Linked DNA regions of Homo sapiens. The main gene of each other region encodes a partner of the protein of the gene in region 2 in a complex. Each region holds a gene or a part of one and is shown on either strand. Other genes may lie near its edges.

Region 1 (7,000 bases), on a different chromosome or scaffold from region 2:
TTCCCTATTTGTAGGTTGTTCCATTTAAGTGTTCTAAATAAAGTGAAGTTGCCTGAGGGGGTGGGAGGATGAGAAATGCTTGTGGAATCCTTATTTAGGTTTGAACTTGGGGTTTTCAGTGTCACAGCTTGTTTTATTTTCAATGTTAATGCAAACTCTCAGACCAAATGCTTCTGTGCTAATATCTGGATCTATGGTATTACAGAGGAATGCAGGCAGTAGTTCAGATGGAACCGAAGATTCCGATTTTTCTACAGATCTCGAGCACACAGACAGTTCAGAAAGTGATGGCACATCCCGACGATCTGCTCGAGTCACCCGCTCCTCAGCCAGGCTAAGCCAGAGTTCTCAAGGTAAAAAAACCTTCATTTTTCCTTACCACTCCTCACATCTGGCTGACTGGCCCATCACATTATTTTCCTAGTTAATGTGGAAACTGGCCCCTTGGCTTGGTGTAGATGACAGTGCACCAGATGATTGGTAAAATGTAGAGTGAATGCAGAGTTGTCAGGTCTTTAACAATGCCTCTGTGGGGGGCTACTATCCAATCTGTAGACCCAAAGGAACTGCGGATGGTATAATGGATAGAGACACACGTATGTCTTGAGTCATTTGTTTGTTTGTTTGTTTGTTTTTTTAGATCGCAGTGTCTCCATCAGTAAAATTGGAATGTTATCCCTTCACTTTCTGTTTGAATGTTTGAGGCTTAGGGACTTGAAGTCCAGATGGTATCTGATTTATGGTGGCTTGATTTAATTTTTTTTTTTAACTTTACAGTGGTGCTAAAACAATATGCATTCAGTGGAAACTTTTAGAATTTTGAATTTCGGTCTTTTCCTGGGCCAGTGATATGTGGGCCAAATATTTTCTCATGTTGCTGAGTGGTGGCAATGAGCCATAATAACTCCAGTCAGTGAGCCGTAACTCCCAGTCAGCCATTTGATCATGAGGGTAAACCAGTACTCTTCAGTGTACTGTCTTTAATAAATTATATGCAATATTCAACACTTTATTAAAAATAGGCTTTGTGTTAGATGATTGTGCACAATTGTAGGCTAATGTAAGTGGTTTGAGCCTATTTAAAGTAGGCTAGGCTAAGCTATGATGCTCGGTAGGTTAGGTGTATAGCGGTTTTTTTTATTTTCTGGAGACAGGGTCTTGTGCTCTGTTGCACAGGTTGGAGTGCAGTGGTGTGATCTTGGCTCACTGCAGCCTTGACCTCCTTGGCTCAAGTGATCCTCCCACCTCAGCCTCCTGAGTAGCTGGGACTACAGGTGCACGCCACCATGCCTAGCTAGTTTTCTTTGTTTTTTGTAGAGATGAGGTCTTATTATGTTGTCTAGGCTGGTCTCAAACTCCTGGACTCAAGCAGTCCTTCCACCTTGGCCTCCCAAAGTACTGGGGTTATAGATGTGAGCCACCATGTTCAGCCTGTAAATGCATTTTTAACTTATAATACTTTCAACTTATGATAGTTTTATTGAGACTTAACCCCATTACAAGTCAAGGAGCATCTGTAGTCTCTTGGACTTACTCTTGGCAGAGGCCCACTTCTAAAACCATGTTTAACTCTGGAATGTAATCCAATAAACACTTGATAGATATTAATAGTTGTACCAAAATATCAGTGTGGAAATAATGGAATTTTGCTTTGGTAATAAGGAATTGAGAATCTTGGGGTTGGAAGGTAGTTTGAACTATCTCTAGTGCATTTAGGCATCTGGGGTTAGATTTGGAGGGTACCCTTGACCCTCCTGGCTCTGCTCTGGTATTCCCTGAGGAGGAAAGAAGGTTGCAGCTAATACAGAAAGCCGATGATCAACAGGTGATAATAGATGAAGGGAAAAAAACTTTAACATGTTTTGAGCACTTCAACAGTGTTGCTTTGGTTAATTTTTTTTTTTTTTTTTTTTGAGATGGAGTCTAGCTCTGTTGCCAGGCGGAGTGCAGTGGCATGATCTTGGTTCACTGCAACTTCCGCCTCCTGGGTTCAAGCAATTCTCCTGCCTCAGCCTGCAAGTAGCTGGGACTACAGGTGCACGCCACCGTGCCCAGCTAATTTTTGTATTTTTAGTAGAGATGGGGTTTCACCATGTTGGCCAGGATAGTCTCAATCTCTTGACCTCATGGTCTGCCTGCCTTGGCCTCCCAAAGTGCTTGGATTATAGGCATGAGCCACCGCGCCCTGCTGCTTTGGTCACTTTTATATGAGTATGTTGCACAATGAGAGAAAAACCATCAGTTTTTCAAGCAAGAAAGTGGGAATATCCTCTTTAACAACTGTTCCTAACTTTATTTTTGAATTTAGGATTTCAGCTAAAGTATTGCTATTGTCTCTTGATTTCTTAAGCTTTAAATTTTTACCACAATGAGACTATGGATAAATAGCTACTATAACTCAAGCAGTATGTTATGTACTAGGAACCATGATAGAAAAATCATAGTTCCTGTCCTCAAAGATCTTACAGTTCAGTGCAAGATACAGATATGAAAATTGATCATGGGAATACATTATGGCAAGGGCTGTGAGAGGGGTTTGCATAGAGTACTACATAAGCCCAGAGGTGGGACAGCCAACTTAGGGCAGCACTCCCACAATGATGAAGTCTTTTTTGTTGTTGTTGAGACAGAATCTCGCTCTGTCGCCCAGGCTGGAGTGCAGTGGCATGATCTTGGTTCACTGCAGCTTCCGCCTCCTGGGTTCAAGGAATTCTCCTGCCCCAGCCTCCCAAGTAGCTGGGATTACAGGCGAGCACCACCATACCTGGCTATTTTTTGTATTTTTAGTAGAGACAGGGTTTCACCGTGTTGTCCAGGCTTGTCTTAAACTCCTGATCTCAAGTGATCTGCCCGCCTCGGCCTCCCAAAGTGCTGGGATTACAGGCGTGAGCCGCCGTGCCCAGCTGCACACTGAGATGTCTTAAAGGCTCTGATAGGAATTTACAAGTTGAAAGATGGGAATATGTTATTCTCGGCAGATGGAACAGCATATGCTAAGGAAAAGACATAATGTTTGTAGGAAGTATAATTGACCATGCCCTAGACACCTGAAAACTAAATATTCAAAACAGCTAGGAAATGCGTAAGCACTGAGTCTCTTTCTGGTTATCATACCTCATGACCACAGAGTTGCACAACTCCAGGGGTACCATTTACAATGTCAGCAATGTAAGGTGGTCCTCCCTAGAGCACAAGGTAGATCATATTGTGAAAGGAGGCCCCTTGGAGATGTACAAATGGATAACCTTGCTCTGTGCTAACTTTTCTCACCCGAAAGTTTGGAAATTTTCAGTTTTCTTCTTTAGAGAATCTATAAGATTTCTTCAGATTTTTTTTTTTTTTAAATATACGTTGGGGGGTGCAGCCGTGAGAGAGTGAGGCTGACACCGCGCCCTGGCCTGTGCATCCCGCCCTCTGAAAAAAAAATTAATTAATTAAAATAAAATATACTTTAGAGAGGATTTTGACTGTTCTCACCACAAAGAAATGACAAGTGTTTGAGATATGGATATGCTAATTATTTTGATTTCATCATTACACAATGTATACGTCTATCAGAACATCACAGTATACTCTATAAATATGTACACTTACATGTCAATTAAAACAAAACTAAGACTGCTAGGGGCTTACACGGAGGGAATTGAGCCAGCATCACCACGATGGTGTTGTTGGAGAGTGAGCAGTTCCTGACGGAGCTGACCAGACTTTTCCAGAAGTGCTGGACATCGGGCAGCATCTATATCACCTTGAAGAAGTATGGTGGTGGAACCAAACCCGTTCCAAAGAAAGGTTCTGTGGAGGGCTTTGAGCCCTCAGACAAGTGTCTGTTAAGAGCTATCGATGGGAAAAAGAAGGTCAGCACTGTGGTGAGCTCCAACCAAGTGAATAAGTTTCAGATGGCTTATTCAAACCTACCGAGTGCTAACATGGATGGGCTGAAGAAAAGGGACAAAAAGAACAAAAGTAAGAAGACCAAAGCAGCAGCACAGTAAAGGGCACAAATTTCCTGCTTTCACCAATTAACCACTGAATTGTTATTTTTTCCTTTGGTTTTTACTTTTGGCCACATAGCTAGGTTTCTGGTTCCCCTACACTAGGTGTTTTCACATAAGATGTAGGGTCCTTTTGCAAAGAATAGTTGCAATGTTTATAGGGCAGTTGTGGTAAGAATCTAGTTTATTTTACATTTGGCTAATTGGTCTGTACTGCATGGTTATATACTCCTGGATTATAGATTAAAAGTCTCTGTAGTCATCTCTGTGAAGAGCAAGCTATGATTAAACATGTCTCTTTATAAAAAAAAAAGCACAAAAAAACTAAAACATATCTACATATATTTTTTAAAAATGCTTTAATTTCAGCTTTGAATTTTCCTTCATTTCCTTTGTCCTCAGGTTGGAGATATAAAAGGGCTGCTGAGTGCCTCAGAATAGGTTTTTCTATCCAAAAAACTTAAAATGCTGCATTCCTGCTTTACCTTTATGAATCTATTATGACAGTGCCAGAGAGGGTAATAAGAAAGAAAAAAAAATCGGCCCCTTAAGAAAGGAAATCGTTTTGTTTGTTGTTATATCTTTGGTAATAGAATATCTGTTTTATGGTGGGTTAGAAAAAGGGAAGAATGAGAGGATGCAGTTAATATTTATAAAGCACTCTGTACCACGGATCATGTTAAGTGCTTCACATGCATTATCTCACCTATTCCTCACCACAGTGTTATGAGGAATGTGCTACTAGTATTTTCCTTTTCAATAGGTCAGGAAACAGGCTTGGAGAAAATAACTTGCCCAAGATGCCACAGCTAGTTGGTATGGTGGAGTGGAGTTGAATCAAGTTCAGTCCTAATTCCAGAACCTAAACTTATTAATGCTGTACTACATTACATCTGTATACCTGAGCTAGGCTCTTTTGCTTATATTTTATTTAATTAAATAGATATTTTAAGGATTTGTTGGATTTTGTGAAATATGAAGAGGAGGAGGAGCGATATTCTGATAAATTATATGGATAGGAAGTAAAACAGATTTCCATCTTTTTTCTTTATTTTCTTTTAAAATTGGGATCAGATTCCAGTCCTGTTCGAAATCTGCAGTCTTTTGGCACTGAGGAGCCTGCTTACTCTACCAGAAGAGTGACCCGTAGTCAGCAGCAGCCTACCCCAGTGACACCGAAAAAATACCCTCTTCGGCAGACTCGTTCATCTGGTTCAGAAACTGAGCAAGTGGTTGATTTTTCAGATAGAGGTGAGTGGGTATGGTATGACTTAGACCTATTACAGAGCATCTGGGTGAAATTCTTTTTAAGGAGGGCTTGGGGCCACTGCAGGTAGATGCCTAATACTTCAGCTAGATGAATGCTGTTTGCTTGCTTCCTTTCTTATGTCTTTTTTTTTTTTTTTGAGACGGAGTCTCGCTCTATTGCCCAGGCTGGAGTGCAGTGGTGCAATCTTGGCTCACTGCAAGCTCTGCCTCCCGGGTTCACGCCATTCTCCTGCCTCAGCCTCCTGAGTAGCTGGGACTACAGGCGCCTGCCACCACGCCAGGCTAATTTTTTGTATTTTTAGTAGAGACGGGGTTTCACTGTGTTAGTCAGGATGGTCTCGATCTCCTGACCTCGTGATCCACCCGCCTCAGCCTCCCAAAGTGCTGGGATTACAGGTATAAGCCACCATGCCCAGCCTCCTTTCTTATACATTGCTGAGGACAGTTTGATATCAGAATATTCTCAAGGTCCAGAGTAGCTGGAGTATATTAAATCGTACCTGTAATAGGAAAAAGAGACTGGGCCCTTCTTAACCACATTTGAAAAGGGCTTGAAGCAGACTTTTCTTATAGCCATACTTCTCAGTCCATTTATCTCCAAATTTCTTAATGCAGAGGTCACAGACTGGTGAACTACTTCTAGCTGTCCGCATGGTTGGTTGGTTTGCTTGCACAGTGTTTAAAATTTTTTAAATTTGTTGCTAGTATTTGAAAACACAATGATTTCATATAAAAACCTGGATTAATAGTTTATTTTAAACAATGAAAAGATCTGGGAACACTGGGCGGCCAATCACCCATAGTAATAATTGGCTGGAGTTGAATAGTAGTTGTCCCCTTTAGATGGACAATGAGCTGTCTCTTTGGCCTTGCTGAGCCCCTGTAGGCATTTGGTTTGCAATTCCTGATTTAGAGTCTGGAATTTCAAGATTGAATTGTTAGACTACAAACAGGCTCACTCAAGACTCTAAGTCCATTCACATCTTACACCAAGCCTGTTCAGTGTCATCCAGAAAGATAATCACTGTCACTTATCTTCTGTCCTGTGTATCTCCTGGAAGGGAAGTGGGATAGTAATGTTTTAAAAACGTATTTCCATCTAGTTTTGATTATCCATGATTAGCAACTCAGGAGAAATACAGATAGGTGTAATAGATGAAGTACAAATTTAATTTTAATCAGAATTTAAAGTTGCACAAAATGGATGGTGTAGAAGTGCCTCTTCATTTTCCATTTAGCCATCTAGCAGATGAATAGCTGAAAGTTACTGGTTAAATCATAGAAAAAGAACCTGGGAAGCCCATAAACTCTGAATAGTAAACTTCTAAATAAATGAACTCCACTCATAACTTCTACCAATTGCTTTTGCTTTAGAAACTAAAAATACAGCTGATCATGATGAGTCACCGCCTCGAACTCCAACTGGAAATGCGCCTTCTTCTGAGTCTGACATAGACATCTCCAGCCCCAATGTATCTCACGATGAGAGCATTGCCAAGGACATGTCCCTGAAGGACTCAGGCAGTGATCTCTCTCATCGCCCCAAGCGCCGTCGCTTCCATGAAAGCTACAACTTCAATATGAAGTGTCCTACACCAGGCTGTAACTCTCTAGGTCAGTGTGCCCTAGCTTCATGACATCCTTTGTTCTGTGGTTCTCTCTCCCAGGATCATCCAGAAATGTTTTGTGTTCTGTTGGGATTTAGCTTCTTAGGCTCTTCAGTGGTCATGTGCTGA
Region 2 (7,738 bases):
GCCGTGTTGGTGGTGGAATTCATTCATTTCTGTTGCTGTGTGCTATTCCATTGCGTGGATACACCTCACTTTGTCCATTTTACCGTCCTTTGATATTTAAGATTTCTCCCAGTATTTGCTATTAAAAACAGCGTTAAAATAAAAAAAAAAAAACACCAAAAACAGTGTTGCTCTGAACATTCATGCACATGCTTCCTGATGAACAAGTTTCTTTTTTTCTTTTCTTTTTTTTTTTTTTTTTTTAGATGGAGTCTTGCTCTGTTGCCCAGGCTGGAGTGCAGTGGCGCAATCTCTGCTCACTGCAAACTCTGCCTCCTGGGTTCACACCATTCTCCTGCCTCAGCCTCCTGGCTAATTTTTTGTATTTTTAGTAGAGATGGGGTTTCACCGTGTTAGCCAGGATGGTCTCAATCTCCTGACCTCATGATCTGCCTGCCTCAGCCTCCCAAACTGCTGGGATTACAGGCGTGAGCCACGGCGCCCGGCCCTGATGAACAGGTTTCTTAGGCACACACCCAGGCACGGAATGCACCTAGGAATACAAATTGACTTAACCCTACAGCCGGGAATGGGTATGCACACTGGGGGAGCTTGCATCTTCTCAAAGTGGCCACAACAACTTCTCCCATACAGCATGCTTCTCTTAAAATGTGATGATAACACATGTCCCAAGAGGTGGGGTCTGTATTCTCCCTAACTCTTGAATCTGGACAGGCTTGTCCCTATGGCAGAAGTGATGCGTGTGACTTCAGAAGCTAGGATGTGAAAAGTGATACAGGTCCCACCTGCTTCTCTTGAGACCCTTGCTCCTGCAGCATGGCTACTATTCCATGAGGATGTTCCCAAGGCCCTCAGCCCAGAGCCTGGATCAAGGTCCCAGCCACGTGAGTGCACCATCTTGGAAGTGGCTCCTCCAGCCCCTAGTGGAGGTGCCCCAGATAAGGATGCAGGAAGTAGTCTAGTTGTACCTGCTGAATCCTGCCCAAATAGCAGATGTGTGAACAAAAGGAATGACTGCTGTTTTGAGCTACAAAGTTTTGGGGGTGGTTTGTTTTGCAGCAAGAGGTAACTGATAAACATGTCCACTTTCACTGGGTAACGCCTTATGACCAAGATATTTACCAAATAATTGTCCCACTCGACATTCTGGCCAGCAGGGTATTGCTCTGCCATCTTGCCATCGCTGAGTATTGCCACATATGAACGCTGGTGCCTATTTGGTGTGTATTTTGTTTGCATTTCCAAATTTACTAGTAAGATGATTGGCCTTTCCATGTTCTCTGCAAGAAGCCTGATTATGACATGGGTTTCTTTGTTGATTTGGGTTTTGTGCATCATTTTGTTGGCTTGTTTGTCTCTTTCTAATGGATCTGAAGGGGTTCTCTATATATTCTAAATACTAATCATCTGCAAGGTGTACATATCTTTTAGTTTTTCATTCTTCAGTCTCTTTATGGTGCCTTTTGAGGAACAAACATATGATAATTTCCATCCTTTCATTTACGAAATGGAGTCTTGCTCTGTCACTCAGGCTGGAGTGCAGTGGGGCAATCTTGCCTCACTGCAACCTCAGCCTCCTGGGTTCAAGTGATTCTCCTGCCTCAGCCTCCTGAGTAGCTGGGATTACAGGCACGTGCCCCCATGCCTGGCTAATTTTTCTATTTTTAGTAGAGATGGGGTTTCACTATGTTGGTCAGGTCTTGAACTCCTGACCTCAGGTGATGCACCTGCCTCGGTCTCCCAAAGTGTTGGGATTACAGGCATGAGCCACTGTGCCTGGCCCCATCGTTTTATTTTTCATCTGTTATTTTTCAGGTGAATTTCTTGTAAGAATATTTCACCATATTTATATTCCATTCAGAGAGGTTGTCTTTTAATAGATGCATTTAATCCAATCACATTCCTCTGATTACTCAAATGTTTGAACTTAGTTCTGCCAACTCATATTATGTTCTGTATTTATCATGATTTTATCTTTTACTCATTCCTGTTTTTTTTTTGTTGTTGCTGCTGTCGTTTTTCATTTCGCTTTTTCCTCAGCTGTTCTGAAAGTGGTAAATTCTTTTTCCACCATTCTTGTGGAAACTTTCTGATAGTTAAAACTTTTTTTTTTTGTTTTTTTGAGATGGAGTTTTGCTCTTGTTGCCCAGGCTGGAGTGCAATGGCACCATCTCAGCTCACTGTAACCTCCACCTCCCAGTTTCAACCAATTCTCCTGCCTCAGCCTCCCAAGTAGTGGGATTACAGGCATGCGCCGCCACGCCCGGCTAATTTTTTTTTTTTTGTATTTTTAGTAGAGATGGGGTTTCTCCATGTTGATCAGGCTGGTCTTGAACTCCCGACCTCAGGTAGTCTGCCCGCCTCGGCCTCCCAAAGTGCTGGGATTACAGGTGTGAGCCACCATGCCCAGCTAAAATTTTTAACCTTTTTTTCTATCGATTCTAAAATCCTCGAACCAAACAATACAAGAGCTTTCGTGCACTTTCACTTCCTTCTGCGCCCCGCCTTACCATGTGTCATGTTGAGTTCATCCGGGATTTCTCTCAGGTTGATTTTCTTTTAACGGACCAGACTGATTTACTTGCTGGCATCCACGTCTTACTCTTGGGTCCACTTTTCACTTTGTTAAGGTATTTCTTCTAGTACTTTTACAGACTGCGTGTGTGGTAAATGTGGATGTTAACCGGCGGTGAAGACACCTTTATTTTGCTGTCTCACTGGAACGCTAGTTTCACTGTGTATGAGTTACGGTTCAATTCTCTTAGTATTTTGGCAACCCCTCCTCTGTAGGATGAGTCTGAATTCTAAAGAAGATCCTCTCCGAAGGCCTTCCTGAGTATCCCTGTGACATGCCTACGTTCGAGGCTTTGTTCTTCACTCCTCTGAGCATCACCTGCATTGTCTGAGAGGCCACTGTCCCCGTCTCCTCTTCTGTGAAGGGTTTCGTGTCTTTTCATCTTCTCTTTCATGAGACTGTGTCTTACTTTTGCTCTGTGTTGTGGAGAACCTCCAGCTTGGTTTCCATCTGGCTTCCCTGAGGTGGAGGAGAGAAGCGTTCGGGCTCAGCTTGCTTGTTTGGCCACAGGTAAACAGACATCTGTAGAATGGAGGTGACACGAAGCTCCTGGGTCTGGTGCAGAAGAGGTCAGGGCCCCAGTGGCCTGTACCCCCTAAGCTCAAGGGTGTGTCTGCAGGGAGTCCTAGATCAGGACTGACCACTGGGGCCTTGGCTGGGGTCCTACCTGCCCTTGAGTCGTCACGTCACAACCCACACACTGGGTGCCATGGGCATGAGGACTGGCCAGGAAAAGGCCTGTGGGGCCTGGCCCCTATCAGGGACACTTGGGCGAACAAGGCCACCCCACTCCCAATAAGGTGTTTGGTGCAGTGCCCCGAGCAGTGGGGCCGCTCGGCTGCCCCCGTGGGGACGGTCTGTCCCAGGGTGGACAGCTGCTCTTCCTGAGGGGCCTGCCTGGATGCCACAGGCTGTGCTGCTGGAACCCAGGGATTCCACAGCACCATCGTCCTGATCACAAATTCTCAAGGAAACCAAGGAGCTCCTGCCTCACCTTAAAACATTTGGGATTTAATCTTGGAGTGAAAATTGTTATGACCCCACTGAATTTTAGAGTTTACACAAAAGGCCAAAGTGAAGGCAGAGACTCAGGCCTCTCAACTCCCACCCGCAGGGGCCTTTTCTTGCAACCTTAAAGGGCATCTGCTTCACGCCGGCCTCGGCAGGGCCCTCACACTGGCAGGACTACTTGCACACCGGGCCTGACACTCACTAGGGGAGGCTCCCCAGCCCGGCTGCACCACCCACCTCTACCTAGTCGCGTGTCCCGGCCAGTGCCCTTTCCACTCCCACCCAGTGCCCCCGCAGGGCCCCCTCTGTCCTCTTAGGGACCTCCACTCCCGGACCAATAGCCTCCTGCCTCAGGGCCCCCCACTCATGGGCCAATCGCCCCCTGCCTCAGGCCTCCCCCCACTCGTGGGCCAATCGCCCCCTGCCTCAGGCCCCCACCAACTCGTGGGCCAATCGCCCCCTGCCTCAGGGCCCCCCATTCCTGGGCCAATGGCCTTCTGCCTCAGGGACTCCCACTCTCAGCTGGTCCCCCCCGCCTCAGGGACCCCCACTCCTGGCCGTTCCCCCGTCAGGGCCCCCGACTGGCGGCTGCTCCCCCATCCTGCCTCGGGGCCCCCCACTCCCGGGCCAATGTCCTTCTGCCTCAGGTACCCCCACTCCCGGCCCGTCCCCCCGCCTGTGGGCCCCCCACTCCAGGCCGGTGGTAGCCCCTGCCTCAGAGCCGCCCACTCCTGGGCCATCTCCTGCCTCAGCGACCCCACTCCTGGGCCAATGCCCTTCTGCCTCAGGGACCCCCACTCCCAGCCGGTACCCCCCTGCTTCAAAGCCCCCGACTCCCGGCTGCTCCCCACCTGCCTCGGGGCCCCCCACTCCTAGGCCTACGTCCCCCTGCCTCAGGGCCCCTCATTCTCCATCCTCCTGACCCCCTCAGGGACCTTCTGGCCCGGTCCTCCCTAACTCAAGGGCCCCCACTCTCCATCCTCCCGACCCCCCACTCCCAGCCCGGTCCCCGCCGCCTCAGGGCCCCCTTTGGCCCCCGCTCCTCGCGGCGCCCCCTCCCCCGCGCGCGGCCGAGGCAGCGGAGTCCGCGCGTCATGGCGGCGGCGGGCGGGGCGCGTCTCGCACGCAGCGCGCCGGGCGGAGCGCTCGCCGCATTGTTTGCTTCGCTGGGGAGCGAGCGAGCGACCCGGCCCTGGAGTCCGAGCCAGCCCCGCGTCCCGCGCCCGCCGCCCGCCGCCCGCTCCCGCGCCCGCGCCCGCGCCCGCCGGCCGGGCCCCCCGAGCCGGGCCTCCAGCTGGGCCCCGAGCCCGAGCCCGCGCCGCGCGAGCCGCTGCCCGAGAGTCCGCGGCCGCCGCTGCCGGGCCCGGAGCCGCCGCGGCCGAGAGGGGCCCGCGCCCAGGAGCGGCGGCGGGGCCCGGCCTGCGCGGCCGTTGGCGGAGGAGCCGCGGGCGCCATTAGCACCGCCTCGGCCGCGCCGGCCCCCGCGCCCGCCCGCTTGCCGGGCTCCCGCGGCCGCGGCGCCCCGAAGGTGAGTGGGCGGGGGCCTGGCCGGGGAGGCCTCCCCGCCGCCTCGCGGGCCGCCCGGCCGCCGCCGCCGCCTCGGCCCGGCCTCTCGGGGTTGTGGTGCCGACGCCATGTTTGGCGGCGGCGGCGGCGGCGGCGGCTCCGCATTGTCTGCGGGCCGGGAGCCCGGGATGCCGGGGAGGCCGGGCGGGGAGACCGGGGAGGTCGGGCCGGGCGGCCGGGGAGACGGGCGGGAAGACGGGGAGGCCGGGCGGGGAGACCGGGTAGGTCAGGCCGGGGAGTCGAGGGAGGCCGAGTCGGGCTGTGGGTCTCGGCGGCCTGGGCCGCGGGCGCCTGCCCGGAGTCCGCGCTCGAGTCGGGTCGGGCCTCGGGCAGCCGCCGAGCCGGCCGGGCCGCCCCTTATGTAACAGACAGGCCCGCCGAGCTCTGCCAAGACGGGAACTCCCTGTGAGCAGGGACGCGCCCCGAGATCGCCCAGGAGCCGCGCGGCCTGCGGCGGCCGGGCTTGGGAACCGGCACCGCGGCCTCCCCGGGCGTTTGCAGGGAGACGCCTCGCGACGAACGCGAGGCTTCCCCGGGCCTTTTAAAACGAGTGACACGATTGAGGCGCAGTTCACGGGAAACGCGGCTCTTGTGAGCGGACGCGGGAGTTCTGAGAATCCGTAGCAGCGGGACCCCCTGCCCCGCGGGGTGCGGCCCCGTCTCCCCAGAAAGCGCGGCCGCCCGTGTCTGTTTTTGAGGGTCTGTCGCCAGGTGGTTGTGTAGTTAGTGGAATCGGCGGATGTTTTTGTTTGGCCGGCCCAGCGCCGTCCCGAGTGCTGTGTGCTGCACACAACTTCGCACAGCTCAGCGGCCGCGGCCCCTGTGGCCTTGACCGAGAGGCCCGGCGCGTGGCCGGCTTCTCCCTGGGCGGGCGGTGGGAAGATGGAAGCGGCCGTCTTGTGGGCAGCCTTCCCCGCCTGTGGCCCGCAGGGCTCTTCGATGTACTTAAGGGAATTATTCCTTGAGAAGCTACGTGTGTGCCCCCGCGGATCCCTCCCAGTGGAAATGCTTGTCCCAGTGGAAGGGCCAGGGACAGAACCGGCCCAGGGGGGAAGCGGTGAAGCAGAGGAGGTCGTGGGTCGCCCTGCCCTGCTGAGGGCCTACTTTCCCCGGGTCCCAGTTGCATGTTGAGGGTATGGAGCTGCTGTGGCCGTGAAGCCTTCGGTTCAGTTCTCCCCTTGTAGAAAGTGTTGCGATGAAGAGCTTCACGGCTCCCTGGGAGAGAGTGGGTTTCCAGGGGCTGCTTGTCGTTAGGGCGACTCAGGACTTTGCTGTCGAGGGGAAAATGACAGGTTCGTTTCTGATCTGGTGAGTAACCAACTGTTGCTTCTGCCCCACCTCAGTAATGACGCGTGTCGGCGTCCCGGGTGCACTAGGGTCGCTCTCTGCAGGCTGTGGTGTCACCTCTGCAGGGCTCACGGGGCCGGCTGGGGGGTGGCTGTGCTGACAGCTCCCCAGGAATCCAGGGTTGAGTGGGTACCTGGAGGCCCTGGAGATGCAGGGGGTCTGAGGTTTGGCCGACCACATTTTCTCTCCTATTCCTTTCTGTAGGTAATTGCAATCTAGTTTCAACATACAATGAGGATTTCTGTCTGATACAGAGAAAGATACCCAGTGTCTGGAGGGTCTGTCTTAAGAAGTGCTCTTGAAGTCTGCTGGGATTTCCTTTCGGGACTCACAGAGGGAAGCCTGCTCCCTGAGGGCTTTTTCTCAGGCCCAATAGATCAGGGTAAGGCTGCTGTGGGTGCCCCTGATCCCCCTGGGCCCCGAGGCCAGGCGTCCCTGACGTGGCAGGGCTAGATGCAGAGTATGCCTTGGGCTTCAGCTGAGAATATTTGTTTTGCGAGTCAGTCACTGAAAAATCATTTTGCTTCCTGTCAGTGAAGTGTGGCGCTTTGGAGGGAGGCACTGCCCAGCAGGCGGTGGTCTTCACAGGAGGTGTCCACACACCAGGCACCCTGGGGACAGCTAGGAATAGACGCAGTCCGTGGTGTTGGGACAGCAGAGGCCTCTGCCACGAGGAGCTGGAGGTATGGGAGGCAGCTCACTGGTTTTGCCTACCTCTGGAAAAGCAGATTCTCCTAAGCCTCTGTGGCCAAGTCTTCAGGCACCTGAGCCAGCGCTGGCGACCCTCCTGGTGAGGGTCTCTGCAAGCAGCGAGGGGTTCCTGGGGGTCACCCCTCGCTGTGGAGCCTGAGTGGAGCGTCTGCCTTCACGTGTGCCGGGGAGAACAGAGATTCCCTTTGGCGTCATGCATGTGTCTGGATTCTCTCAGAAAGGAGGAGGACGTGGAAGGAGGAGGACGTGGCCAGCACCATGGTCTCAGTGGGGCTTGAGGAGTGCCCCTGAGGGGAAGGGGCAGGTTGGCTCAGCCTGTGGTGGTTTCCATGGTGGTCACTGCCAAGGCTCTGCAGAAGCGGGGTTGGGGCCTCCCAGGGGCCAAGACTGTCCCCTCAGACCAGTACAGGGCTCCCCTGTTGGTCCCCTGTGCCGTGTTGTGCGTGTGGAGGGCCTGTCTATAGAGGATGGACAGGCTGTGATCTGTCTCCTACCCCTGGCCCCAGCAGGAATGCTGCAAGGACTGTG

What was found. Proteins that work in one complex are often made in the same cells at the same time.
Region 1: the proteins of BRD1 (region 2) and KAT7 are in contact, whole or in part, in a crystal structure (PDB 5GK9), measured with the Homo sapiens proteins. Residues at the interface, in XP_047297239.1 of Homo sapiens: Val40, Ile42, Glu43, Ile44, His49, Arg50, Ile51, Ser52, Ile53, Phe54, Asp55, Pro56, Leu57, Glu58, Ile59, Ile60, Leu61; in NP_008998.1 of Homo sapiens: Leu531, Phe534, Gly536, Lys537, Glu538, Ile539, Ser540, Ile541, Lys542, Pro552, Val553, Val556, Gln560, Leu565, Tyr567, Lys571, His572, Leu573, Val574, Leu575, Lys576.

What each region holds. Positions count from the first base shown.
Region 1 is NC_000017.11:49,791,681-49,798,680, forward strand, and holds part of KAT7 (histone acetyltransferase KAT7), read left to right. Parts: intron 1-205; coding exon 206-353; intron 354-5,069; coding exon 5,070-5,246; intron 5,247-6,638; coding exon 6,639-6,878; intron 6,879-7,000. UniProt on the Homo sapiens protein: Catalytic subunit of histone acetyltransferase HBO1 complexes, which specifically mediate acetylation of histone H3 at 'Lys-14' (H3K14ac), thereby regulating various processes, such as gene transcription, protein ubiquitination, immune regulation, stem cell pluripotent and self-renewal maintenance and embryonic development.
Region 2 is NC_000022.11:49,824,873-49,832,610, reverse strand, and holds the start of BRD1 (bromodomain-containing protein 1), read left to right. Parts: upstream 1-4,737; 5' UTR 4,738-5,114; intron 5,115-5,353; exon of another isoform or gene 5,354-5,373; intron 5,374-6,025; exon of another isoform or gene 6,026-7,738. UniProt on the Homo sapiens protein: Scaffold subunit of various histone acetyltransferase (HAT) complexes, such as the MOZ/MORF and HBO1 complexes, that acts as a regulator of hematopoiesis.